4 linked regions of the Homo sapiens genome follow. The protein of the gene in region 1 interacts with the protein of each later gene in a pairwise test. Each region holds a gene or a part of one and is shown on either strand. Other genes may lie near its edges. The genes, in order: ASPH, CXorf66, WFDC12 and GUCA2A.

Region 1 (7,031 bases):
TTTGGAAGCTGGAATTTGGGGAATTTATATCACAGATTTTTAAAGCAAGTGTCTGCTTTTTATTTTCTTCAGCTTAAGCTGAAAAATGATAAAATGGTTTTCTACAGAGTTCAATTTTACTTTTTTTTCAGTTTTACTCTTTATAATATAAAAGAAACATGAATAAATTAGACTTCCTACCTTTATTTTGCATATAGAACTGGACTTGCATGGCCAGTTGGGCCCAGGGGAAGCCTTTTTCAAATTTATTGATTTGAAAATAGTTTGACAAAGAAGGATCATGATGTCCTTTTGGGCTTATTTTGTAGACACTCGTATGTGTAATGTTTTCTGTTTGTTTGTTTAGTTTTTCCCTTTTGAGTATCACCCCTTAACTCCCTGTATCTCCTAGCAGCTTTCCATCTCCCTGTTTATTTTGTCTGGGTGTCCTGCTACTACATTAACTTTTGCCACTAGGTGTCACTGTAGAATATATCCCCCTTTTAGTTTGAAGCTTGGGGTTATGTAACAGCAGGTTTTAATTATTATTTAATCCGTCTGTATATACTCAAAACTATTGATAGATAAGCACTTAAAAACTCTTAGCTACTTTTTAACTCTCTCAAGGTGTCTCAGTAGATTGAGCAGCCTTTTTGTTTAGGCTTAATTAGAATGAAATATATTCCTGTACTGCCTGTAAAACATTAACAGCTTCATTTGATGAGTATTTGTCATTTAGAAACACACTTCTGAGTTTAGTTTAGCTTCCTTTTTCTTTCTACTTTGAGTGTCTCTTAGATTACTAAGTAACTGAGGGATTCAATACACTGCTGATTGCATTGTGGAGCCCTTGAATGAAGAGGCCCTAGCAAAATTTTCTTTCTTTAGCCAAAGACCATCAGAGCCAATTGCTTAATCCTCCATTACTCATTCTAAGATGAAAACATAGGAGGACCATAATTCTTCCACTGCAAGAACCGTCAGCTATTTTGTGTTCAGTTCAACAGCATTTTGTCCATCCTGACCAAATCATATGAAACCAAGCACTAAATAATGTTCTGAGGGAGTTTATGAACACATTTTCCAGAGACCAGTTAACCTCTGGTGGTCTGTGGAAGTGAAAGTTCTATATTTTGGACTATATTTTAGTCTTGCTTTAAAATAATCTGTCTCATAGAGATTATTAGAAAATGAATGTATGACATTTTCATTTTCAGCCAGTTATCAACAGAGGAACTTGGATAAAGGCTCATAGGGTCTATCCATCTTGTTGTTAGTTAATATCAGATACTTAGCCCCTGAGCTCTCTGGTTCCAATAGAAAAACCCTTTTCTCCAGAAAGCTAGTGCAGTTTGGGAGAAGGAATATGATGACCTGGATCATATCTGTGTAAGAATCAGAACCAAGAATCGCTAAAAATCTCTGTTCCCAGCCTCCTTAAATGTAAAGAATTATTATCTACTTTCTTTTCAGAGTTTTGATATCACTAATGCTGATTTCATATGGCTTTGTGTTTCTCAGTTGTTTCCGTTAAAGTACGTCTAATAGTAGGGGTGAGTGCAAAACTTTGGAGACTATAAAAGTGTAGATGTCATCAGGCCATTGCATGCTTTGACTTTTTTGATGATTTATTCTTATTTATTTATTTATTTTCATGTTCCATAGCATCTTTGTGTTAAGTAAAATGTATATTCTTGAGATAGAGTTTATACTATGCTTTGAGGACTGCTCGATACATTTCTCTCAGCTTCTGGAGGTGTAAGTATCCATTTGCACATCAACTTTCAAGTTGGTGATTTGCCCTTAATGGCTCAGAAATCTGTAACATTATTTTATCTTACCCAGGCTCAGATATATTTAGTCTTTTGAGGTAACTCCAGCCACTGTTTTAATATCATGAAAATATGCAGCTTAGTTTGTGGCTTGGATACTTCCATATCACCTCTAAATGGCTTGACTTCATTCTGTACCAAGGTACAAAAATGTTTTTCAAATGAACTTCTCTTTAATAAACCCTGTATGTACATATAACCTATGTACACCCCACCTAAACCTCCGGGGAAAAGCCTCAGCCATCTATCGGGAAATGTGGAGGTGCAAGGGCTGCTTGCTTCATTATCTGCTGCCAGTGTCTGCTCTGCACTGCACATGTGGGTGTGATGAGTTTCTCTGGTTCGGTCCTGCAGCTCTGGCCATTTTTATTAGAGGACTAAGGATTCAGGATGTTCTTTTCTTCCCTGTGTACCACTGTGGGAGTATAGTCTGGAGGCCAGTGCTTTAACTTTTTTTTAATTATACTTTCTTCTGGTACTGCTGGGAGCCAAGATGGTATTTTCTTGTTAGTCATTATTTTTAAAATTTTAGTATTTTATTCCCCTGATGTGAGGGATGCTTCAGGCTTTTGTCCTGCATTTGATCTTTGTTTTTCAGGGATGTGTCTTGGTTACCTTTGGCTGATGTGGTTATCTTTTAACGGCAAATCACTGAATGTAATTCAGTTCCTATCAAATTGGCCACAGCTGAGGACAAATTTGGTTTAGATAACCTATTAGACTCAAAGGAAATGTTGAGCTCCCTTGGTGAATAACTCTTTTTAAAAAGAAAATCATCTTTTGAAGGATCTGGGCTATTCGGCCCCCTGTGAGATTCAGGTCACTTGCCTAGTCATGTGACTGTCATCATCTGCCGTAGATACTATGTGTGCTCCAGAGCGGAGAGCATTGGTGAATTGACTTGGTTGAGGGGTGGGGGGCTGGGGGGTGGGAGTGGTTGCTGTCCAGTTATAGTCAGGTTTCCAAGGGCAGCCACTATCTCTGTACTTGGAGAAATGCCAGCACTTCTCTCCTACATGTGTGCCCACACGTTGAACCCAGTGACTCATCCTGTACTTAAGACCCCAAGGATCAGTCTTAAATTTAAAGTAGGAGAATATCCTTTGATAATTTTATTTCACAACCAGCATTGTTGTAACTGCCTTTTCTCATATTTTACATAGGTTTGACAGCCATTTCTACCATTCCATAGTGCAGAGTCACTATTATTTTGTTGTTCTATCCTGTCTGTAACTTCTTTTTCTTATTTATTATTCTTCTAATATACAGTTTTTGTCCCTATCTTTCACAGGCTGCTTTCAATTTCAATTTTCTTGGTATACTGGAAAGACTCTTTTGGTCTTAGTTTCACTTGTAAATTTTATTTAGGACACTTAATTTTTTGACTTACATAAACCTCAAAATCTGTGTTGTAAATATTTGTTGAAAGAATATCTAGCATTTAACTACTTTTCCATTCTTTGAATCAAGTCAATTTGTATAAGATGCTTGTCACTGAGTTTTTGTAAGTTGTTTCATGGATTTGCTTTTTGGCAGAGAGCTAGTTCTCTAACCTTTATAATAAAAATATTTCTGTGTATTGCTCTTTAAAATTGTATGTATTTGAAATAGTACATATTTAAGCCTATAAATAATTGTAGAGAGTAATGCAGTGGATGCCCATGTACTGACCATATAGGCGAAGAAATGAAACATTATCAGATTCCTAGATTTTCCTCTCCTGTGGTATTCCTTCCTAACCATTGTTAAACATTTTATGGTAGTCATTATCATAAATACAGGTATATATGCACAAAATAATATATAACATGTAGCACATACACATTATGTATCCACACATGTAAACTGTATCTATTATTAAATCAATGTATTTGAAAACTGCCCAGGAAGTATATCTATATCCCTATGTGTAGAAATATACCTATACACACACACACATATATGTATATATACTGTATAGCACGTATTAAAAGTTTTGTGAACAGGCTTCTACTTGGCATACTATTTTGACAGCATTTGTTTGAAATTCCTCCAAACTCCAGTTCTTTATTTTCACATATGTAGTTCTACACCATATGAATATGCCTTGCTTTTCATTTAGCCATCCTATCGCAGGCCACTTTTTTTCTTTCAAATAATGCTGCCCTGTACATGTATGTGCCTATCTCTCCCCATGCATACATGTCTGAGTGTTTTTCTAGGGCATAATCTGGAATTGGAATTGTGGGTCATAGAAAGTACACACATTAGACTTTACTGGATATTGCCATTTTTTAACCCCCAAGTGGTTGTATCAACTTACAGTTCTGCCCCTAATGAATAAGAGCTTGTTCTGTGCCATCATCACATTGTCAACATTTGGTGAAGTTTAATATTTGCCAGTTGAGTGGCTGTGAAGTAGTACTTGAGGGTTTAAACTTGCATTTTTCTAATTACTAGTGAAGTTACTGGTAAGAGTAGCCTTGTGTTTCCTCCTTTGAATTGCCTGTTCGTATATCTTGCCTATTCTTCTGTTTTTGTTTTGTATTTGTAGTATTGATAGGTAGATTTTTTTTTTTTAATATCCTGAACCTTTTGATTATTTTTGATAAAGGACTTCTCCTAGTCTGTGTTTACTCACATTTTCATTTTTTATGGTATACGTTGTTGAACAGAATTTTAAGATTTTAATATATTAATAGAATTTTTCCATTTTGTACTTTGTGGTTCACACCTTTATACTTTTTGTAAGACACATAACACAGATGTTATGAATTATTCTTGTATTTTCCTCTAAAAGATCTGAAACGTTGCTTTTTTACATTTAGATCTCTGAACCACCTGGTGTAGCATTTTATTGTATATTTTGTTATTAGGGATCTAATTCAGTATTGTTTTTTAAAAAGGGCCAATGAGAATGTCCTGTACTGTTAGTTGATTTGTCATCTTTTTACCGTAGTCTGCAGCATCACCTCTTGTGTATGAATACGTCGGGCTCTATTTTGTTCCAGGCATGTAGAAGCAACACCAAACTGAATTGCTCACTATAGCTTTGTAATGAGTCCACATATCTGATAGGGCATGTCCTTCTACCCTGCCTTTTTCACTATTGTGTTTGCTGCTTTGGGACCTTTCCTCATCCATTTCTCTAGATTTTAGAATCTGCTTATCAAATATGTTCATGAAAAATATTTGAGAATTTTTACTGGCATTGTATTGAATCTATAGAACAATTTGGGACAAATACAGATGTTTATAATACTGAATCTTCTTATACATGCACCTGGCCGGCTGGCCTGCTTTCTCTTCTTTCTTCTTTCTTTTTTCTTCTTTCTTCTTTCTTCTTCTTCTTCCTCTTCCTCCTTCTTCTTCTTCTTCTTCTTCTTCTTCTTTTTTTTTTTTTTTTTTTTTTTTTGAGTCATGACCTCGCTCTTTCACCCAGGCTGCAGTGCTGTGGCAGCCTTGACTTCCCAGGCTCCGGTGATCCTCCGACCTCAGCCTCCCTGGTAGCTGGGACTACAGGCATGCACCACCATGCCTGGCTAATTTTCTTATTTCTTGTACAGATGGGGTTTTGCCGTGTTGGCCTGTCTGCTCTCAAACTCCTGGGCTCAAGTGGTCTGCTCATCTCGACTTCCCAAAGTGCTGGGATTACAGGTGTGAGCCCTGCACCTGGCCTATAATTTCTTATGTATTTAAGTCTGACAATTTTTATAATCTTATTTGAAAGTCATATACATCTTTTATTAGATTAAGTCTGGGTACTTTGTATTTTAAAAAACATTTTCAATAGTATTTTTAAATTAACATTTTTTAATGAAACTTAAAAAATATGTATCCAAATTGAAAGAGTTCTGTAATGACTCCACCATGTAGATGCTACAGCGGTTAACATTTTGATAGATTTGCTTTGTCATGTCTATTAGTCAATCTTATTCTTTCATGCCTTTCGAAGTAAGTTGCAGGTATTAGTATATTTCACTTTCATAAACATTTACATGTGCCTGTAGCTAACTAGAGCTTAGCATTTGTTTTTTTTTCCCTCTGAGGTAAAATTTTCACGTAGTGAATTGCACAAATTTTAGTGTCTGATCTGAGGAGTTTTTATATCCATTTCTACCTTTGTAAAACAATAACCTATTAGGATAGAGAATATTTTCATCACCCTGTAAAGTTCTCTCAAGCCCCTTTCTTGCGTCCACCTCTGCCACCAGAGGCAGCCATTGTACTACATTTTTTGATCATAGATTAGTGTTTTCTATTCTAGAACTTCTTTTGCAAGTACTTTTTTTTGTAAAGTCTCCTTTCACTCAGCATAATATTTTTTAGTTCGTTTATGTTGTGTACACGGTCACTTGTTCCTTTTTATTGTCAAATAGTATTCCAGTGTCTGACTATAGCACAATTTTTTTTAAGCTTTTATTTTAGGTTCAGGGGTACATATACAGGTTTGTTATATGGGTAAATTGCATGTCACAGGGGTTTGGTGTACAGATAATTTTGTCACACAGGTAATAAGCTTAATACCTGCTGAGTAGCTTTTTTGATCTGCACCTTCCTCCCACCCTCCACCCTCAAGTAGGCCCCAGTGTCTGTTGTTCCCTTCTTTGTGTCCGTAGGTAGTCAATGTTTTGCTCCCACTTATAAATATTAATAAGAACATGGTTCTCTGTTCCTGTGTCAGTTTGCTTAGGATAGTGGCCTCCAGCTCCATTCGTGTTGTATAGCACAGTTTTTTAACCCCATCTTTTATTGGTGGACACTTGGGCTAGTTTTGGGTTATTATGAATAAAATTCTATGAATATTATAGAAGCCTTTTTTGACATATGTTTTTATTTCTCTTGAGCAAGAGAGGGATTACTGGGCTATAGGGTAGGTGTATGTTTAGTTTTATTAAGAAACTGTTCAACTCTTTTGCAGAGTAGTTGTACAATATATTTTATACTCCCACTAACCATGTGTGGAATTGGTTGTTCTACATATGTACCAACATTTGGTGGTGTCAGTCTTTTTAATTTTAGCCATTCTGGTGGGTATGCCGTGGCTTCTTACTGTAGTTTACATTTGCAATTCCCTGATGAATAATGATGTCAAGCACTTTTTCTTGTGCTTATTGGCTACACCCATTATCTTTAGTGAAGTTTCTTTTTTGCCCATTTCTAATTTTATTGTTTTTTGTTGCTGAGCGGTAATTCTTTATGTATTCTGGATAGAAGTTCTTTTCAGATATATATAGCACA
Region 2 (7,492 bases), on another chromosome or scaffold:
TTTTATTCTTTGTTTATTTATTTTGAGACAGAGTCTCACTCTGTGGCCTAGGCTGGAGTGCAGTGGCGTGATCTCGGCTCACTGCAACCTCTGCCTCCTGGGTTCAAACAATTCTCCAACCTCAGCCTCCCAAGTAGCTGGGATTATAGGTGTGTGCTACCATGCCCAGCTAATTTTTGTATTTTTAGTAGAGACGGGGTTTCACCATTTTGGCCAGGCTAGTCTCGGACTCCTGAACTCAAGAGATATGCCCGCCTCAGCCTCCCAAAGTGCTGGGATTACAGGCATGAGCCACCACACCCAGCCACTTTCATCCTTTCTAATTAGCTTACTCCTGCCATCAGGGGCTGTGTCACAGGTACCTTTGGACATCTTTTCCAGGTTTACTGCGCTGGTGGTAAGGGAATTTCTCAGCCCAGATTGTTTGAAAAATCTTTGGGGAAAACTTCTGATTAGCCTGTCCTGAGTCACATGCCCAACTATAAACCAATCACTATGGTTAGAGATGGGAACCGATTACTGGTCTAGCCTGAGCCACATGCTCACCCTTGTGGCCAGGAGAGAGGGATACTATAATTGTTAGTTCTTATCAAGACCATTTGGTTGAGGTGGAAAGAAGTGGTTTTCCAAAATGATAGATTTCCTGCCCCCAAGAAGATAAAACAATTCATTATGTCTGTGAAAAAGAGAAGGAAGGACTGTAAAGTTCCATATATATGTATATATGATCAACCCTATTGATTATATTTTATGTTATTTACATATTCTACCTCCTTAATAATTTTGTGTCCACTTGATTTATCTTGAGCTGAAAGTTGTGTAGTATAACTTTGCTTCTATCTATTTGTTCTTATATCTCTTCTACTTTTTGTTTCATAAAGTTAAACACTAGAGTTGATTGGCAACCACTCACTTTCCATTTGGGGACTCTTCTGCTTCTCTTTCTGGCCCCCATTCTCAAATTCCCTTCAGTCCCTGACTCCTGATATTAACAACATAGGTATTATCTGCTGGCCTACTTTATCAACTCTCTAAAAGTGGGTACTATACCCAATAATAATAACATTTCTTGACCACTTATTTTATTTTATTTTATTCTATTTTATTTTTTTTGAGATGGAGTTTTGCTTTTGTTGCCCAGGCTGGAGTGCAATAGCGCGATCTCGGCTCACTGCAACCTCCGCCTCCTGGGTTCAAGCGATTCTCCTGCCTCAGCCTCCCGAGTAGCTGGGACTACAGGTGCCTGCCACCACACCTGGCTAATCTTTGTATTTTTAGTAGAGACGGGGTTTCACCATGCTGGCCAGGCTGGTCTCAAACTCCTGACCTCAGGTGATCCACTCTCCTTGGCCTCCCAAAGTGCTGGGATTACAGGCGTGAGCCACCGTGCCCAGCCACATGTGACTTTTTTTTTTTTTTTTTTTTACAAGGAAATGGTTTAAGCATTAGTTGTGTATTTTTTTTAAATATTTTTATTGCAGAAAATTAATATAACATAAAATTTACTATTTTAACCATTTCTGAGTGTACACTTCAGTGACATCAAGCAGATTCACATTGCTGTACAGTCATCATCACATCCATATCCAGAAGTTTTCCACCATCCCAAACTGTACCTCTGTCCCCATTAAACAATAATTCCCCGTTCCCCACTCTACCCAGCCCCTGGTAACCACCATTCTACTTTCTGTCTCTATGAATTTGACCACTCTAAGTACCCCATATAAGTGGAATCATATAATATGTGGCTTATTTCTTAGCATAATGTTTTCAGGGTTCATTCATGTTGTATTATATATTGGAATTCCCTTCCTTTTTAAGGCTAAATATTGTTCCGTTGTATGCATATACCGCATTTTGTTTACCCATTTATCTGTTGATGGACATTTAGGTTGTTTCCACCTTTTGGCTATTGCGAATAATACTGCTATGAATATCAGCATATGAATAGTTGTGTGATTTTTTTAAATCCTGAAAAGGAATATTTATAGAATGTTCCCATTTATATGTAGTATGGGTGTGCATCATGTACATAGATATGTATGTAAATATGTAGAAAGAGATCTGAGAGATGCACATCAAATTTTTGTGTCATTGTCTCCAGAATGGGGATAGAGTGGAGTGGGGAAGGAAAAGAGTCTATAACGTTTTATTCTGTATATGTCTGTCTTGTGTATTTTTCATAATGAGAATGGGTTAATATTAATATATTCCTAATGCAATTTTAAAGTGCAATTAAAAATAGAGATGAAGATTTCAGGCATCTTCACAAGCTGTGAGTAAGGAATATTTAAAGCAATTTTAAAGGGGTCAGAAGATCTCAAGGGATAAAGGAAGTCTGAAATACCTCTGTGTGATTTAAAATTTTTATAAGGTGCATATATTTTTTTAATTAAAAAAAATCAAATAAGGGGAAAAAGTTGAAGGCCCAAGGCGGAATTGCACTGTCAATTGAGGTCCAGAGGAGGGCAGTAGAAATCCCCAAGGTGGCAACCCCAGAAAGGTTCCTCTCACCCGGATGAGGGCAAAGGTTCAAACTTGCCATGTGGGTGCTGGGAAGAGCTTAGGAGCTTTTCCTACTACTGATTCCTATAGATATGACGCCAGCCAGACATTGGAAGCAAGACAATCAAATATAATGGCGGAAATCAGAAAAGTGGTACAGGTTAATCTCTGGAGAACCAAGGAGAGAGAAACCAGGAGCAGCCATTCTTCACCAAGAATCATTACACAAGGGCCCAGGAGCAGCTCTCTGGGGAAAATGACCTAGTGAGATTTTTAGGGGTCTTGGGGACACAGCCCTGTTAAGTACCTGGCTAAGTCCTTGGACCCTTCCCCTCTGCTTTTTAAAGTGGAAAAGAATAAATATGGCCCTGCAGGCTCAAGATACAGAGCTGGGATTAGGGTGAGGGGAGTGGGACAGGCTCATGCAAATGCAGAATCAGATCCTGTCTTTATTTAAATGTTCAATATTTTGTTGGTCATAGATTTTTGGCATTAATTTTGGTTTTTAAATATCACGTTAAAATCTTATTTGATTACTGAATTTTGCAACACCCCTTAAATTTTGTGCTACAGGCAAATATCTCACTGGGTTTTACTCTAGTCCTGGCAACAATCAAAACAATAACAACAACAAATATGAAGCAAGAAATGGGGTTTTATAGTGTACTTATTATATACAATTTTTATCAAAATAATACCTAGAATTTCTGAGTGAAATCTATTATTACTAACATGCTAGTCATGTAAACTTGCAAATGAAATAAAAATCATATAAATCTATGTTAAAGCCAAAGAAAGTAAAGTGTTTTTGTAACCATTATGAATATGAAGTTAATGTTCAAATTAATTTGGAAGCTGTTTCTGAAATACTGGCTTTAAGATATTTGTCTACCATGTATCCAACACTAGGGAAAAAAAAAAACCTGATTTCTTTTTTTAAAAAAGGTGACAGATACATTCTTTCACTTTATAAGCCCTATTCAAATTTTCAAAAGCAGCTTATTCAAAAGCAATAGAATAACATTTTCTGATTTTTATACAGTTAAAAAGTATGAGCAGGATTATTTAGACCTTCAGGGTAAAACTGAGTTGTATTTTTTTTTTTTTGGTTTTTTATTTTTTTTAAGATGGAGTCTTGCTCTGTCACCCAGGCTGCAGTGCAGTGGCGCCATCTAGGCTCACTGCAACCTCTGCCTCCTGGGTTCAAGTGATTGTCTTGTGTTAGCCTCCTGAGTAGCTGGGATTACAGGTGCCTGCCACTACGCCCGGCTAATTTTTGTATTTTTTTTTTTATGGTAGAGAGGGGGTTTCACAATATTGGCCAGGCTGGGGGTTTTCCAATTAATGTTTAATTTTATTATATTCCAATGGCCCCAAATGCATAATTTCAAACACTGTCACCTTTATAGGACATGTTCTTTCATTTCTTTTTTACTCTTTATTTTATTTTTTTTGAGACAGAGTCTTGCTCTGTCGCCCAGGCTGGAGTGCAGTGGCGCAATCTCGGCTCACTGCAACCTCCACCTCCCAGGTTTAAGTGATTCTCCTGCCTCAGCCTCCCAAGTGGCTGGGATTACAGGTGCCCACCACCATGCCCAGCTATTTTTGCATTTTAATAGAGACAGGGTTTTACCGTGTTGGCCAGGCTGGTCTTGAACTCCTGACCTCAAGTGATCCGCCCACCTCCGCCTCCGAAAGTGCTGGGATTACAGCTGTGAGCCACCGTGCCTTGAACCCGGGAGGTGGAGGTTGCAGAGAGCCAAGATGATGCCATTGCACTCCAGCCTGAGCCAAACTCCGTCTCAAAAAAAAAAAAAAAAAAAAAAGTCATTTGGTAAAATTTGTATACAGAAGCTTATGCTTCCCTATGGTGAGATTATGTTGTCAGAGTATGACACACAATGGTAATGATGTCATAAATGCCTAGAACACTCTGAACTGTATAAATTCAGTAGTTACCTTAGTAGACAAATCATTTGAACCAAGTTGCGGACATGAATCTTGTTATTTGTGTCCTACTTTTGTCCATTTGGAAAAATAATTGCATGACTACAAACCAAACCAATGGATCTTCTACTACAGGTAGGTGCCTAACCTTAAAACTTGTAAATTATGATCTGTTACAGTATACATTAAAGTATTTAATTAGAAACGCCAGCTGTATTTAAGAAATCTGCTGTTACTTTTAGCAGTGTTAACATTAGTAGGTCTTCAAGAATTTCTAATACAACAGCTGATATTAAAAAACTTAAGCAAAATATAAGCATCAAGATGACAGACTTATGGTCCTCCTTTACCACCCTTCCCCACTCAATATACCAACCTGTCCCCACCAAACTAGCTAATACTATATAAATGAATCTGGCAAGGGACTTAACATACAGTAGGGGTTTATTTTTGTTTTTTGTTTTTTTTACTTCAAGTTCTGGGATACATGTGCAGAACGTGCAGGTTTGTTACATAGGTATACATGTGCCATGGTGGTTTGCTGCACCTGTCAACCCATTATCTAGGTTTTAAGCCCCACATGCATTAGGTATTTGTCCTAATCCTCTCCCTCCCCTTGCCCCCAACCCCCACAACAGGCCCCAGTGTGTGATGTTCCTCTCCCTGTGTCCATGTGTTCTCATTGTTCAACTCCCACTTATGAGTGAGAAAATGAAGTGTTTGGTTTTCTGTTCCTCTGTTAGTTTGCTGAGAATGATGGTTTCCAGCTTTACCCATGTCCCTGCACAGGACATGAACTCATTCTTTTTTATGGCTGCATAGTATTCCATGGTGTATATGTGCCACATTTTCTTAAACCAGTCTATCATTGATGGGCATTTGGGTTGGTTCCAGGTCTTTGCTATTGTAAATAGTGCTGCAATAAACATACGTGTGTATGCGTCTTTACAGTAGAATGATTTATAATCCTTTGGGTATATATCCAGTAATGGGATTGCTGGGTCAAATGGTATTTCTGGTTCTAGATCCTTGAGGGATTGCCACACTGTCTTCCACAGTGGTTGAACTAATTTACACTCCAACCAACAGTGTAAAAGCGTTCCTATTTCTCCTCCCCTCATCAGCATCTGTTGTTTCCAGACTTTTTAATGATCACCATTTTAACTGGCATGAGATGGTATCTCATTGTGGTTTTGATTTGCATTTCTCTAATGACCAGTGATGATGAGCTTTTTTTCATATGTTTGTTGACCACATAAATGTCTTCTTTTGAGAAGTGTCTGTTCGTATCCTTCGCCAACTTTTTGATGGGGGTGTTTGTTTTTTCTTGTAAATTTGTTTAAGTTCCTTATAGATTCTGGATATTAGCCCTTTCTCAGATGGATAGATTGTAAAAATTTTCTCCCATTCTGTAGGTTGCGTGTTTACTCTGATGATAGTTTCTTTTGCTGTGCAGAAGCTCTTTAGTTTAATTAGATTCCATTTGTCAATTTTGGCTTTTGTTGCCATTGCTTTTGGTGTTTTAGTCATGAAGCCTTTGCCCATGCCTATGTCCTGAATGGTATTGCCTAGGTTTTCTTCTAGGGTTTTTATGGTTTTAGGTTTTACATTGAAGTCTTTAATCCATCTTGAGTTAATTTTTGAATAAGGTGTAAAAAAGGGATCCAGTTTCTGTTTTCTGCACATGGCTAGCCAGTTTTGTCAGCACCGTTTATTAAATAGGGAATCCTTTCCCCATTACTTGTTTTTGTCAGGTTTGTCAAAGATCAGATGGCTTTAAATGTGTGGTGTCATTTCTGAGGCCTCTGTTTTGTTCCTTTGGTCTATGTATCTGTTTTGGTACCAGCACCATACTGTTTTGGTTACTGTAGCCTTGTAGTATAGTTTGAAGTAAGGTAGAGTGATGCCTCCAGCTTTGTTCTTTTTGCTTAGGATTGTCTTTGCTATACAGACTCTTTTTTGGTTCCATATGAGATTTAAAGTAGTTTTTTCTAATTCTGTGAAGAAAGTCAGTGGTAGCTTGATGGGAATAGCATTGAATCTATAAATTACTTCAGGCAGTATGGCCATTTTCACGATATTGATTCTTCCTATCCATGAGCATGGAATGTTTTTCCATTTGTTTGTGACCTCTCTTATTTCCTTGAGCAGTGGTTTGTAGTTCTCCTTGAAGAGTTCCTTCACATCTCTTGTAAGTTGTATTCCTAGGTATTTTATTCTCTTTGTAGTAATTGTGAATGGGAGTTCACTTATGATTTGGCTCTCTGCTTATCTATTATTGATGTATAGGAATCCTTGTGATTTTTGGACATTGATTTTGTATCCTGAGACTTTGCTGAATTTGTTTATCAGCTTAAGGAGATTTTGGGCTAAGATGATGGGATTTTCTAAATATACAATCATGTCATCTGCAAACAGAGACAATTTGACTTTCTTTCTATTTGAATACGCTTTTATTTCTGGCCCGATTGCCCTGGCCAGAAGTTCCAATACTATGTTGAATAGGAGTGGTGAGAGGGCATCCTTGTCTTGTGCAGGTTTTCAAAGGGGATGCTTCCAGCTTTTGCCCATTCAGTATGATATTGGCTATGGGTTTGTCATAAATAGCTCTTATTATTTTGAGATATGTTCCATCAATACCTAGTTTATTGAGAGTTTTTAGCATGAAGGGGTGTTGAATTTTATCAAAGGCCTTTGCTGCATCTATTGAGATAATCATGTGGCTTTTGTAATTGGTTCTGTTTATGTGATGGATTACATTTATTGATTTACGTTTGTTGAACCAGCCTTGCATCCCAGGGATGAAGCCGACTTGATGGTGGTGGATAAGCTGTTTGATGTGCTGCTGGATTCGGTTTGCCAGTATTTTATTGAGAATTTTAGCATCAATGTTCATCAGGGATATTGACCTGAAATTTTCTTTTTTTGTTGTGTCTCTGCCAGGTTTTCATATCAGGATGACGCCGGCCTCATAAAACGAGTTAGGGAGGAGTCCCTCTTTTTCTATTATTTAAAATAGTTTCAGAAGGAATGGTACCAG
Region 3 (6,445 bases), on another chromosome or scaffold:
TGTGGAGACAGATTAATGTGTTTTCGGTGTGTACCTGAATCCTCAAGTTGTAAACTTGTGTTTTCCCTCTTACAAACTGTAAATATACCACAGGGTGATGAAATGGCACCCTGTAAATATTCAGAAGCCATGGATAATCATTGCCAGAATCAATTATTTCATTAGGGTTTGCAAAACCCAGTGGGTTTTAATTTTAATTATATTTCAGGTATAAATTATGCTGACCAAGGTGAACACTTTGAGGAGGCTTCCTGCTTGGGGAAGAGCATATCTTTTAAAAAACATTTATTTATTTATTCTGTAGAAAAGTTTAGTCTATTTATCCAGATCTTTTAAAATGTCATTTAATAAAGTTTTAGGGTTTCCTTTCAGAAAATTTCTGTACATCTCTAGATTTATTTGTAGGTATTTTATATTTTATTCACTTTGATAATGTTGAATAGGATTTTTTTTTTTTACTATTAGGTTGTCTTAGCAGGTTTGGGCTGCTATAACAAATTACCATAGACTGGGTGGATTATAAACAGCAAATATTTATTTCTTACAGTTCTAGAGGCTGGGAAGTCCAAGATCAAGGCACCAGCAGATTCAGCATCTGGTGAGGACCAGTTTCTCTTCTCTGACAGTGCCTTCTAGCTGTGATCACACATTGCAGAAGGGCAAGGCAGCTCTTTGGGGTCTCTTATAAGGGCACTGGTTTCATTCATGAGGGGTCCATTCATGAGCATTAGGGAGGAGCACCAGGTAGAGAGGGAAAGTACCGTCCCTGGGGTCTGGACTTTTTGTGACTCTTCCCTCTTTTTGGGGAAAAGGACTTCAAGCTCAGGTTTTCTTTGGTGGGGTTGGGTATTGCTTCTTCCATATTCCAAGTCTCAGGACCCTCAGGGGCAGGTGCCAAGTGAGAGTGACCCCCAGAGGTAGAAAGGACCCAGCATCATTTCTGAGGACACCTGGTAGAGGAGGAGCCTGGACACTTGGCCTCCCATCCTGGCTCAGGGTATGGCCTTGACACATCTTCATCCTTGTTTCCTCCTTTGGACAATGGAGATGTTCAGACTAGGTGGTCTCTGAGGGCCCTGCCAGCTTTAGCCATCCCTCCCCACACCAGCTAAAGGGACTAATTCCTCCGAACTTTCATGGGTCAGATAGAGGCAGGGAAGGGACAGCCCCAGCCCTGGGAGGCAGGTCTCCTTACCTTCTTCCAGTTCCTTCACAGGAATCACACACTTGAAGCCACAGTGCAGGTAACAACACTTCCTTTCCCCCAGACAGTCCTGGTCTGTGTGACACTGGGGAGGATCGGACTTGAAGCAGCGTACGTTGTCAGCTGGGCAAACCCCTGCTTTCTCTATACCTAGTGGAGGAAGCCACAAGGTGATATGAGAACTCCAGCCCCAGAGGGCCCCTCAGGACCTCTCCCCAGCCCAGCCCCACCCAGCTCCACCATGTCTGCTCACCCTCTTTAACTCCTTCCACAGCCACCAGGGTCACAAGAACGAGAGACACCATGAGGACCAAGAAGCTGCTGGACCCCATGTTGCCAGGCAGGTGCTTGGCTGGGAGCTGGGCTGAGCCTGGCTTTATAGTGTTCCTGCTGGGCATGCCAGTGGGTGGAGCTGAAGGCTCAAAATGGCAAGGGAGGCTGCACTTCCCAGCTCTATTTGGAAATGGCCCCTTCTGAGGAGGGACTTGGGGCTTTCCCTAAGGCTCTGCACTGGAATAGATGAAGAAATCCAAGAGCGACCCTCGTTCTTCACACGAGGAGAAGAAATGGACACGTGATTGACCATTAGGCGCCACCAGGGCCAAACTATCTTATGGAAGGAGGAAAAGAAGCACAGAAAGGGCATGAAATTACTCAAGTTCACACACGAGGCAGTGGCAGGGCCAGACTTCCTCAACTCCACCGTGTTCTCTATCAGTCCCTCTTCATGCCTGATTCACCTGGGACCAAAATCTTCCCTCCTTCCTGTGCTGCCCCGGACTTGTTCTCAGTTCTCACCTCACCCCAAGGAAGAATCTGAATGGCAGTGCTTAAAATGTCTGTCCTGAACATTCACTCTCAGCCTTGCGCTCCAGCACCGTGTGCTCCTGCCCCCCGCCAATCTCATGTGGCCTGGAGGAAAGCAGATTTTGGACCTGTCACCAGCTGTGTGACTTTGAAAGCAGCTTCACCTTTCTAAGCCTCCGTTTCCTCATTCATACAATGAGCATAATAATTATACTGTATCATCTTCATAGGATTTGTTTTCCCTCCTCTGCCCCTGCATCCCCCAAATTCCTGGATTTGGAAGAAGACATGGACGTGTGTGCGTGTGTGTGTGTGTGTGTGTGTGTGTGTGTGTGTGACCAGGCTTTTGGGGTCCTTTCTTTGAATGAGTACTAAAGGGAGGAAAATCCTTCCTGTTGGAAAAGTTGCAGATATAAGCCCAGAAACTCCAGAAATTTGGTCCTGGCCCTGGTGAGAGAGAAATTCTGAGAAGATAAATCTAAGATGCTGATAAAAAGAGATGAGAGATGGACAGGGAGTAATTTAGAGGATATCTAGTCCTTCACTAAACTTTTTCCTGAGATCAGCCCCACTCATACCCAGGGTTATGTTACCACCCAATACATTCACCTTTCTGCCTAAGCTGGTCTGAATTGGATTTCTGTCATTTACTAACAGGACCCCTGAGTAATGCAAAGATTTGGGTTTGGGGTGTTCCACATCCTGAAGTGTGGAAGGGACTGAGTTGGGGTTAAGTGGAGGCAGGGAGGATACCTCCATTCCTGGAAGTGAGCCTACTCCTTATTAGGTGGTGAATCTTTGGTTACAATCTCACCAGTCATATCACTGGACTCAGATCATTTGGATACCAGGGATGGAATCTGGGAAGTTCATAAACAAATACTAGAATGTTGGAATGTATTGGCTATTTCCTCCTCCACCTTTTTATTATGAACTTTTTAAACATACAGAAAAATTGAAATAACAGAACAATGATACTTGTATACCTACAACTGGATTTAACAATTATTAATAGTTTGGGATATTTTAGAATACCTATAGCTACATTTGTTGAAATATTTGAAATGAAATTGAATACATTATGTTCCTATTTCCTAAATACATCAGCATGCAAATTCTAAGAATAAGGATATTCTTCAATATAATCACAAAGCCATTATCATATCTAAGATAATTAATAGTTTCTGCATGTCATCTCATAGCCAGTTCATATTTGTTTCTCCGGTTCTCCCCAAAATGTCATTTGTAATTGACTGTTGATGATACTTCTTTAAAAAAAGTATTGTAAAATAAATCCTACATATGAAAGAATGTAATCAACATTCTATACCTTTTGAAAAAGAATAATAAACACCTATGAACCTATCAATTTAGAATAGGACATTACCATCCCTACTTCAGAGGTAACCACTATCTTGAACTTTCTGTTAATCATCCTCATGTTTTCCTTTAAAGTTTTGCTCTCTTGCTATGGCTTGCTTAGTGATACGTGTTGTTTAATTTCGTGTAAGCGTAATTATGGCCTAAGTATTCTTTTGTATTTTGCATGCTTTGCTCAACACCGTGTTTTTTTAAAAAATTGTGGTAAGAAATATATACTATAAGACATGACCTCTTAACATATTTTTAAGTGCATACTAACAGTATTGTTAATTGTGGGCACAGTGTCATACAGTAGGTCTCTAGAACTTTTTCATCTTGCATGACTGAAACCCACTGAATAGCAACTCCCTATTCCCCCCACCCCCAGACCCTTGGAACCACCATTCTGTTTTCTGCTTCTATAAGTGACTACTTTAGACACTTCATAAAAGTGGAATTATGCCATATTTGTCCTTTTGTGACTGGCTTATTTTGCTTAGCATAATGTCCTTGAGGTTCACCCATGTTGTAGCATGAGATAGACTTTTCTTCTTTTTTATGGCTGAATAATATTCCATGGTATGCATATATATGTACATGTATATAATCTTTTTCCTTCCCTCATTTATCTGTCAATGGGTCAATGCACATTTAGGTTTCCATTTCTTGGCTATTGTGAATATTGCAGCAATGAACTTGCAGGTGCAAATATCTCTTTGGGATCCTGATTTAAATTCTTTTGGATAAATACCCAGAAGGGGGATTGCTGGATCATGTGATAGCTCTATTTTTAATTTTTTGAAGAACTTCCATACTGTTTTCCGTAGTGGCTATACTCCTTTAAATTCTCACTGACAGTGCACAAGGGTTCCAAATTCTCCACATTCTCACCGGTACTTGTTTTCTTTTTCTTTTCTTTTTAAAATAAAAGCCATCCTAACAGGTATGAGGTGATCTTATGGTTTGATTTTCATTTTCCTGATGATTAGACATGTTGAGTATCTTTTCACATACCTGTTGGCCATTTGTATATCTTCTTTGGAGAAATGTCTGTTTAAGTCTTATTCACTTTTAATTGGGTCTTTATATTTATATGTGTGTGTATATATATATATATATGCATATGTACACACACATATATATAATGAAAAAGAAAAGAAATAAGTATTAGAATGGGAGACGAGAAAAGCCATTGTTTGCAAATGATGCAATAATAAAAACACAAAAGAAACTACAGATACATCATGAGTTAGACAATTTTTCAAGATTAGCTGACACAAAAATCAATATATAAAAGTCAGCTGCTTTCTATACACTAGAAATATTGGTTAGAAAAATGTAATACGTTAAAAGCAATAACATGTAAAATATTTAGTAATAAAGGCAACCTGTGAGATGGGAAAAATATTTGCAAACTACCTACCAGATAAGGGGTTAATTTTCAAAATATATAAAGAACTGCAACTCAATAGCAAAAATATGTTTACATATATATATACATATATACATAGCAAAAATATGTTTATATATGTATATATATAAATACATTTAGGCTTACATTTAGGTTTCCTAGAAACCTAGACTGTCTAGGAAGCAAGCCCCATAAGGAACTTCTCATATTCATATTATAAGAAGGTAAAATTGCAGGGGACAATGTTCCTGTTTTGTAGTAGTAAACTACCTTCTCAAAAGGTGGTTATTTTGTCCCCAGGGGACTTTGGCAATGTCTGGAGACATATTTGATTGTCACAACTGGGACAGATGTGCTTCTCACATCCAGTGTCTAGAGGCTGAGGTTGCTGCTAAATATCTAACAATGCACAAGACAGCTTTTCACAACAAACAATGATCTGTCTCCAAGTGCCAATAGTATTGATGTTGAGAAACGCTGCTGTCCTGCCTCACTGACTAATAGCTGTGCATGGCCTCAGAACACCTCAATGTAGGCTGAAGCGAGTAATGATGGGAGTGTCTGCTGGGAGTATCCCATGCTTAGGAGTGCTGATCCTTGGCTCACTGGTTTCACCCAGTAAAGGCATTCCTTAGCCCATGCCATGTGACCTTGTGGAATTCATCCCATGTTCTGCTGAATCAGGTTAATAAAGTTCCCTTTTAATTCTAGTTAGCTAAGAGTTTTTCTCATGAAAGGATGTTGAATTTTTATCAAATGCCTTTTCTTCATCAATTGAAATAAATATATGGATTGTCTCTTCAATCTGTTATTTTGTGAATTACATTAACCAGATTTCACATTCATTGTCTTTTTTGGGCATCATTTATTTATGTGCTTCAAGAAAGTGGAAAGCCTTGAACCAAAATGGCGGAGTCTAAGACAGGGAATGAAAGGGAAGATATATTTCTCATAAACGTGGAATATATATTCCTGAAAATCATTAGGTTACAGAGTTTTGCTCACTACAAATAATAGGGCTTCTGGAAAAAATAGAGTTGAAGTAGAACATTCAATATTTGTGCAGTCTCATAAGTAATACATCAAACAAACAGAACCCACACCCAATAAAAACATGACCACAGTGTTAAACATCTTCAGTTCCTAATAAAGAAATTATGTAGTAAATGTAGCACTTTACTTTGACAAAAGATGGGGAGTTTGCTTGGTAAGTGGGTATGGTGAAATACTGTGGCTTTTGAGGTATGTACAAAAGGTGGAATGAAGGACATCATCATTCTTGGGACTAAATGTTGTTATACTGGAGGGTCATTGTCGTCAATCTTTTACTTCTGTACTGGCTTAAAACAGCAATCCGCTTCGTTGATTTGCCAGTTCCTCCCTTTTGTAAGGAAGCTGTATAACTCTAAATGAAACTGGATAACTGCAAAGTTCTATGCTGATGCTCTTGACATTAAAATCTTGATCTTTGGCTGGGCGTGGTGGCTCACGCCTGTACTCCCAGAACTTTGGGAGGCCAAGCCGGGCGGATCACTTGAGGTCAGGAGTTCAAGACAAGCCAGCCAACATGGTGAAACACTGTCTCCACTGAAAATACAAAAATTAGCTGGGTGTGGTAGTACATGCCTGTAATCCCAGCTACTTGGGAGGCTGAGGCATGA
Region 4 (6,747 bases), on another chromosome or scaffold:
AGAGGCCGTGGAATGAAAGCCTTGGACCCTGAGTAGGAGTTTGCCTGGACAGTAGTGTGGGAAGACGGGCAGTGGAGAGGTGAGCAGCAGCAGAGGAAATGGCAAGAGGTGTGGTTTGGGATGTGGTCAGGGCTGGAGGCCACACTAGCATGGCTGGTGGGAGCCAAGTCCTTGAATACCCAAGAGTTTGGTGCCAGTCTTCTAGTGGGCCAAGTGCCTGTATTGGTTGTCCAAACCAGCTCAGACTGGCTCCCGTGCTCACATGTGGCTCAGTGAACTTGGTGACCTCAGGAGATGTGAAATAAAAGCAAACCCTCCCCACCACCCGCTGCCTTGGTGGTTTGGAGATCCAGATCCTCTCCACGCCTCTGTGTTGTGGCAGCCCCAGGGACAGTGAGCAGCTTAGCAGGGAGAGTGGGGTCCTTCGCTTAGTACATTACATCCCGAGCTTCCAGGGCAGGATAGACTAGGGGATGAAGGAAGGAAGGAAGGCAACACCCAGAGTACTCTGGAATCTGGTTTATTAGCTGGGGGTTGAAGTGGCAGGGAAGGACAGTGTTGGGGCGAGGCCTCCAGTCACCCAGTTCCTCCCCGGGCTGCTCCTCCCGACTGGACCAGGGTAGGTTGAGCTGCTGGGAGTGGAGTATCATGGGTGGCCCTTTCTGCAGGAGAAAAGAGCTTCCCTGCTGCGGAGGGGAGGCAGGCAGTGGGCAAGCCCCCCTAGCATCCGGTACAGGCAGCGTAGGCACAGATTTCACATGTGCCCGGGTCCTCAGCGATTTCCTCTGCACAACAGAGATGGAGCCTCGTGAGAACCAGCATTTCCTCGCGAGGCCCCTGCCGCCCTTGGCCCAGAGCTTGTACGTCACCACCCAGCCCCAGGAGAATCTCAGCAGGCCCGTACTCTGACCTACTGGGCTTTTCGCCCCAAACCAGGGCACACAGACCACTCAAACCAACCAATCAAAGCAGAGATTCCACCAGAAAGAGAGGAAACTAAGACCAGATGAATGGTCTTAGTTCCCAAACCTCAGCAGTTACAACTTGGAATTGAAGTGGGCATGGAACAGACCCACCAATCAGAGCCAAGCTCCCTAGTTCCACCAGTCAGAGCTGAGCCCTTCCTCCAAATCCCACCAATCAGAGCACATCTCTTCCTCAAGTGCCACCACAGTATTCCCGAACCCCACCAATCAGAGAGGAAGGAGGCTGCTCACCCAGCCTCTGAAGTATCTCCTGGGCATTGGGCTCCTTGCAGAGAGGCTTGAGTTCTTCTGGAAAGTTCGGGTTGCTACAGAGGATGGGAACCACAGGTTCACCAGGGATGGGTGCAAAGTTCCTGAGTTTCCCAACCCTGGGCTCCTGGGGCTCCTGGAGGTCTTTGAGCTTCTTCACTGACTCCAGAGAAAAGGAGAAATTTCCATCCTGGAAGAGAGAAGCCCAGAGCATGAGGCCAGGCTGCAGCCTGCTTCCTGGCTGTGCCCCCCGTGCTGGCCCCGGTCCAGCCCAGTGGTGCTCACAGGCAGTGTTCGTGGCATATGGGAGCCAGGCGATCCACAGTGGGGCACTGTGAGGGGCAGAGTTCAGGCCCCACGTCCTGGCTTGGCTCCGTGATGCTGGACACTCTGGAACCCGCAAATTCTGCATGTTGTATGGGGAATGGAGAAAATGGGTGTGAAGCTCCAGGAACACCATAGGTGCCTAATGAGTAGGAGCCAGTGTGCTGATTTTTAGGGAGAGGCAAAGGACCAGCACCCAGGCATCGTAGTTCCACGTGGCCAAGCCCAGGCTGTCTTTCCCCTGCCTGAGAGCGGTGCGGCTGATTACTGGGCCCCCAGCTCCAGCCTGCAGCCTGGTTTTGGTTTGAGAAGCAATAAAAGGCCTCCCGGAATCTGGCTTTGATAGAGATCAGGGCCCCCGCTAGGTGCCAGCTTGGCCTGTCGCCAGCATTGGCACTGGTAGGCATACCCATCTGTCAGGACCTCCAGGGTGTCCATGTGGTTCCTGGGACCCACTGAGGAGTAAGGTCTGGATTTAAATCCAGCTCCTGCACTTCCCACAGCCATGTGCCCATGGCCTGTTACAGAACCTTTGTGAGGCTCAGTTTTCCCCTCTGTAAAATGGGACTAATGATCCCTTTCTTCCAGGTTGATAGTGGAGCCACAGTGAGGGGCTGGGGAAGGAGCCGGCACATAGGACACTCAGTAAATTGGCCAACTCCCCGCCTTCCCCATATGGTTATTCCTCTTCCCTCCACTGGGTTTCTTTCTCCTCCAAAGTTGAAGGGAAAGGTGTGTGTGTGGCTGGACTGAGCAGGAGCTCCTCGAAGAAGGCCAAGCCTGGGACACACACCCTCAATCCAGCCCCAAAGAGGAGGTACTCTCTCAGGGGACCAGACCTGGGCACTAGGGGCAGGGAGCCAGCTGGGCCGGGGTAGGGACACAGGACTCACCTGCACGGTGACCCCTCCTGCCAAGGCGGCCCAGGCCCCAAGGAGGCACAGTGCGGAGAGCAGGAAGGCATTCATGGCAGCAGTGCCCGAGAGAGGGGTGGCTGTTCTGGATGCCAGGGGGAAGCGGCGGGACTTTTAAAGAGGGCAGGTTACTGAGTAACCTGGAAGCCTCTGTCAGTCTCATCTGCTCACCTGTCAGGCCTTATCAGATAAGGCTCGAGACAGCCCTAGGAGATAAGAGCCAGGCAGGGGGGGCCCCGGCCCCTCCCTGAGCACCTACTTTGACCCACAGCCGGGCTGGGTCCTGCATTCATTCACCAACAAGGCACATTCACTCACGACTGCCCTGTGCTGCTGTGTGGGGCCGGCAGACCCTGCCCTTGAGGAGGGGGGCCCAGCCCGACAGTGAAACGCAGGGCGATTAGGGTGGGGTGATCCTAGGATGAGGTGACGGGGCTGCACTGGGGGCTGAGCTCTGGAGAATGGGTGGAAGTTTTCCCAGAGAAGGGACTGAGGACAGAAGGCCATTTCATGCCAAAGGGACAGCCAGGAGGTGAGACGGGCCTGGAATATTCAGGGAAATGTGAGAAATTCCACGGGGGAGGCTGCAGGGCAAGTCAGGGTCTGGGTTTGATTGCCGCGACCTCAAGGAAGCCCTCCGCACAGCCTGGGTTCCGTTCCACCTACTGCCCAGTTGTGAGGCGTGTGAACTTGGGCCAATGCTTTCCCCTCTCTGAGTCTCGTTGTCCCTTGTGTCCCCTGTGGGAACCAAAAATAATACCTACCTCATGGGGTAGGTGTGTGGTAGGCATTACTGTTTGGAGAATCAAGTGAGGTTTTAAAAACATTTAGCTCAATGCCTGGCACACAGAAGGTGCTCAGCAGAGGTCCATTCCCATATTATTAGCAGCCACAGCAGCTCCTGGTCCTCCCTGGCCCCTCTGGTGACCTCCTGCCTGTCTGAGTCACAGGCTGTCCCCATCCTGTGCTGGTCCCCATCCTGTCCTGCCTGCCCTGCAGCCTCAGGGTGTCCTCGAATGAGCTCCTCCCCAATCCGCCCGCCCCCCTTGCCCCTGCAGATACAGTCCCCTTTCCGCGGATCTCACTGGGGAATTGCTTGGGTGTGCCCGCGCCCCTATAGACTCTGACCCCATTCAGACTGCGCCCTCAGGGCAGCGTGCATTCACTGTGTGCTGTTGTGAGCAGGAATCCCCAGGACACAGGAGAAAGGGTAGCCCTGGGATTGTCATCTTTCTACTCAGCCAACCTGGCCCGATGCCAGGACAGCCCTAGGGCGGGAGGTTGGGCAGGAATTCCTGGGTGGGGAGAGTCAACACTGAAGAGGGAATTGGAGAGAGCAGGGCCTGACCAGGAGGGAACTGCAGGGACAAGGCCCTCAGGGAGGGGCAGGTAGCTCCTGGCCCAGCTCCCAGGGCAGTCCTCACAGCTGCACTGGATTTCCCACCCCTTTCTGGTGAGTGTGTGTGTGTGTGTGTGTGTGTGTGTGTTAAGGGGGGGTGTGTCTGCGGAGATGTGTATGTCTGTGTATGCCAAGGTGTCTGTATATACCCTGATGGGTGTGTGTAGCCAAGGTGTGTTTGTATGTGTGCTTGTGCTGAAGGTGTGTGTGTGCTGAGGCATGTGTGTACACTGAGGAGTGTATGTGTATATATGCTGAGGTGTATGTGTGTGTATGCTGAGGGGTATATGTGTGTCCGTGTACACCAAGGTATCTGTGTCTGTGCAAGGAGGTGTGCATATATACATCGAGGTGTGTGTGTGTCAGTGTGTATATACACAGGCGCGTGTGTGTACACCGAGGTGTGTGTGTTTGCTGGGATGTGTGTCTGCTGGGGTGTCTGCTGGGGTGTGTGTATGTGCACTGAGGTATGTGTGTGTGTATGCTCATGTGTGTATATGCACTGAGATATGTGTGTGTATGTGCACTGAGGTGTGTGTGTGTATGCTGAGCTGAGTGCATCTGCTGTGTTGTGCGTGTGTGTGCCGAGGTGTGTGTATACACTGAGGTGCATGTATGCGCTGAGGTGTGTGTGTGCTGACGTGTGTGAGTGCTGACGTGTGTGTATACACTGAGGTGCGTATGTGTGCTGAGGTGCGTATGTGTGCTGAGGTGTGTGTGTGCTGACGTGTGTGTATACACTGAGGTGTGTGTGTGTGCTGAGGTGTGTGTGTGTGCTGAGCTGTGTGTGTGCTGATGTGTGTGTATACACTGAGGTGTGTGTGAGTGCTGATGTGTGTGTATACACTGAGGAGCGTGTGTGTGCTGAGGTATGTGTGCGCTGATGTGTGTGTATACACTGAGGTGCGTGTGTGTGCTGAGGTGTGTGTGTGCTGACATGTGTGTATACACTGAGGTGCGTGTATGTGCTGAGGTGTGTGAGTGCTGACGTGTGTGTATACACTGAGGTGTGTGTGCGCTGACGTGTGTGTATACACTGAGGTGTGTGTGCTGACGTGTGTATACACTGTGTGTGTGCTGAGGTGTGTGTGTGTGCTGAGCTGTGTGTGTGCTGATGTGTGTGTATACACTGAGGTGTGTGTGAGTGCTGACATGTGTGTATACACTGAGGAGCGTGTGTGTGCTGAGGTATGTGTGCGCTGATGTGTGTGTATACACTGAGGTGCGTGTGTGTGCTGAGGTGTGTGTGTGCTGACATGTGTGTATACACTGAGGTGCGTGTATGTGCTGAGGTGTGTGAGTGCTGACGTGTGTGTATACACTGAGGTGTGTGTGCGCTGACGTGTGTGTATACACTGAGGTGTGTGTGCTGACGTGTGTATACACTGTGTGTGTGCTGAGGTGTGTGTGTGCTGACGTGTGTGTATACACTGAGGTGCGTGTGTGCTGAAGTGTGTGTATACACTGAGGTGTGCGTGAGTGCTGACGTGTGTGTATACACTGAGGTGTGTGTGAGTGCTGACGTGTGTGTGTGCACTGACGTGTGTGTGTGCTGACGTGTGTGTATACACTGAGGTGTGTGTGCGTGCCTGGACATGTGTGTGTGCCCACCAAGGTCAGCCACACACTGGTCCCCTCGCTGAGGGCAGGTGGGAGTGGGCGTGGGAGTGAGTGGGGTTAGGGGAAGGAATGGGGCTGAGGGTCGGGGCGTGGGACTTGGATGCTGAGCAACAGGATGTCGGGGGATGGAGCTGGGGGAAAGGTGAGGGGCAGGAGTTTCGGAGGCTGGGGTGGGGATGAACACCGGGAGAAGTTCGGGAGTGCGGCTGAGCTCCATGCTAGACTGGAGCCGGGGCTTGCGGAGACCGGAGCGGGGTTGGGATTGGGGTCAATTCGGGCGACACTAAAGTTGGTTTGGATTAGGGTCAGGTTGAGATGGAGCTGAGGTTGGGCAGGGGTAAATTAGAGTTAGGTGTGGAGCCGAGGGCGCAGTCCAGATTGAACTGATGTGGTGCTTGTAACTGACGTGGAGGCTGGTTTGGGCTAGGTTAGGGCTCATTGGCAGGACTGGGATTGGAGTTGAGTTTGCAGCAGAGATTGGAGGTGTGACTGGGTTAGGTTTATGATGGGGGTGGGTCTGGCTTAAGTGTGACGCTACAGCTGGGTTGGGATTTGACTTTCAGTTAAGGATGGGGCTTAGGTGGGGCCACCAGGCTGAGGACCTGTTTTTTCTGACTCATTTTGGTCTTTCCCCTCCCAAGCTGTGGCAGGAATGGGGGTAAAGGGCAGGGGCTTTCATCCCTGAGCCTCTTTCTCCCACAGCCCCCCTGGCCAAGGCTTGCCTGCTATAAGGCAGGGATGGAATGGAGTGGGTTCAGGAGTGACATCACTCCACACTGTGGGAAAGAGGAAGTGACTCCTAGGCCATGGCCCTTAGGGTCCTCCCCTACCCAACTCCACCTCTGACCTCTACCCTGGGAAATGGGAACCAACTCCCCTTCCCTTGTTCCCCAAGCCCCTCTGCCTAGTCTGGCCCCAGCCGTGAGTTCAGGCCCCCTCCCCTCTGAACCTCCAGGGTGCTCAGGACCTCTGCAGCCTGCTCTGAAGCTGCTGGAAGTTGGATCTTGGGCTCTTCCCAGAACTCCAAGCTTCCTGCCTCCCACCCCAGCCTACACCCTGAGTCCTCAGGCCCTGGTCCCCAGCACCCCCACATCCCTCATTCTTCCATATGGGCAGAAGGAGGGTCTGAGGCTGTTTGGGTTTCCCACACTCCAAGACTGCCTTTTCTGGCAAACTCTTGCTCCTAATAGCCTTCCAGGCCATGCCACCTGTCCTGCCTGCCTCCCCCTCTGAAAACCCATCAGTGGCTGCCCAA

What was found.
Region 2: the proteins of ASPH (region 1) and CXorf66 interact in binary tests that used the Homo sapiens proteins (3 or more experiments, as listed by UniProt).
Region 3: the proteins of ASPH (region 1) and WFDC12 interact in binary tests that used the Homo sapiens proteins (3 or more experiments, as listed by UniProt).
Region 4: the proteins of ASPH (region 1) and GUCA2A interact in binary tests that used the Homo sapiens proteins (3 or more experiments, as listed by UniProt).

What each region holds. Positions count from the first base shown.
Region 1 is NC_000008.11:61,704,579-61,711,609, reverse strand, and holds part of ASPH (aspartyl/asparaginyl beta-hydroxylase), read left to right. Parts: intron 1-7,031.
Region 2 is NC_000023.11:139,962,504-139,969,995, reverse strand, and holds the start of CXorf66 (uncharacterized protein CXorf66 precursor), read left to right. Parts: upstream 1-4,474; 5' UTR 4,475-4,499; coding exon 4,500-4,587; intron 4,588-7,492.
Region 3 is NC_000020.11:45,122,912-45,129,356, forward strand, and holds WFDC12 (WAP four-disulfide core domain protein 12 precursor), read right to left. Parts: upstream 1,555-6,445; 5' UTR 1,537-1,554; coding exon 1,458-1,536; intron 1,355-1,457; coding exon 1,196-1,354; intron 1,033-1,195; coding exon 935-1,032; 3' UTR 514-934; downstream 1-513. UniProt on the Homo sapiens protein: Antibacterial protein. Putative acid-stable proteinase inhibitor.
Region 4 is NC_000001.11:42,162,186-42,168,932, forward strand, and holds GUCA2A (guanylin precursor), read right to left. Parts: upstream 2,561-6,747; 5' UTR 2,528-2,560; coding exon 2,453-2,527; intron 1,426-2,452; coding exon 1,218-1,425; intron 786-1,217; coding exon 721-785; 3' UTR 505-720; downstream 1-504.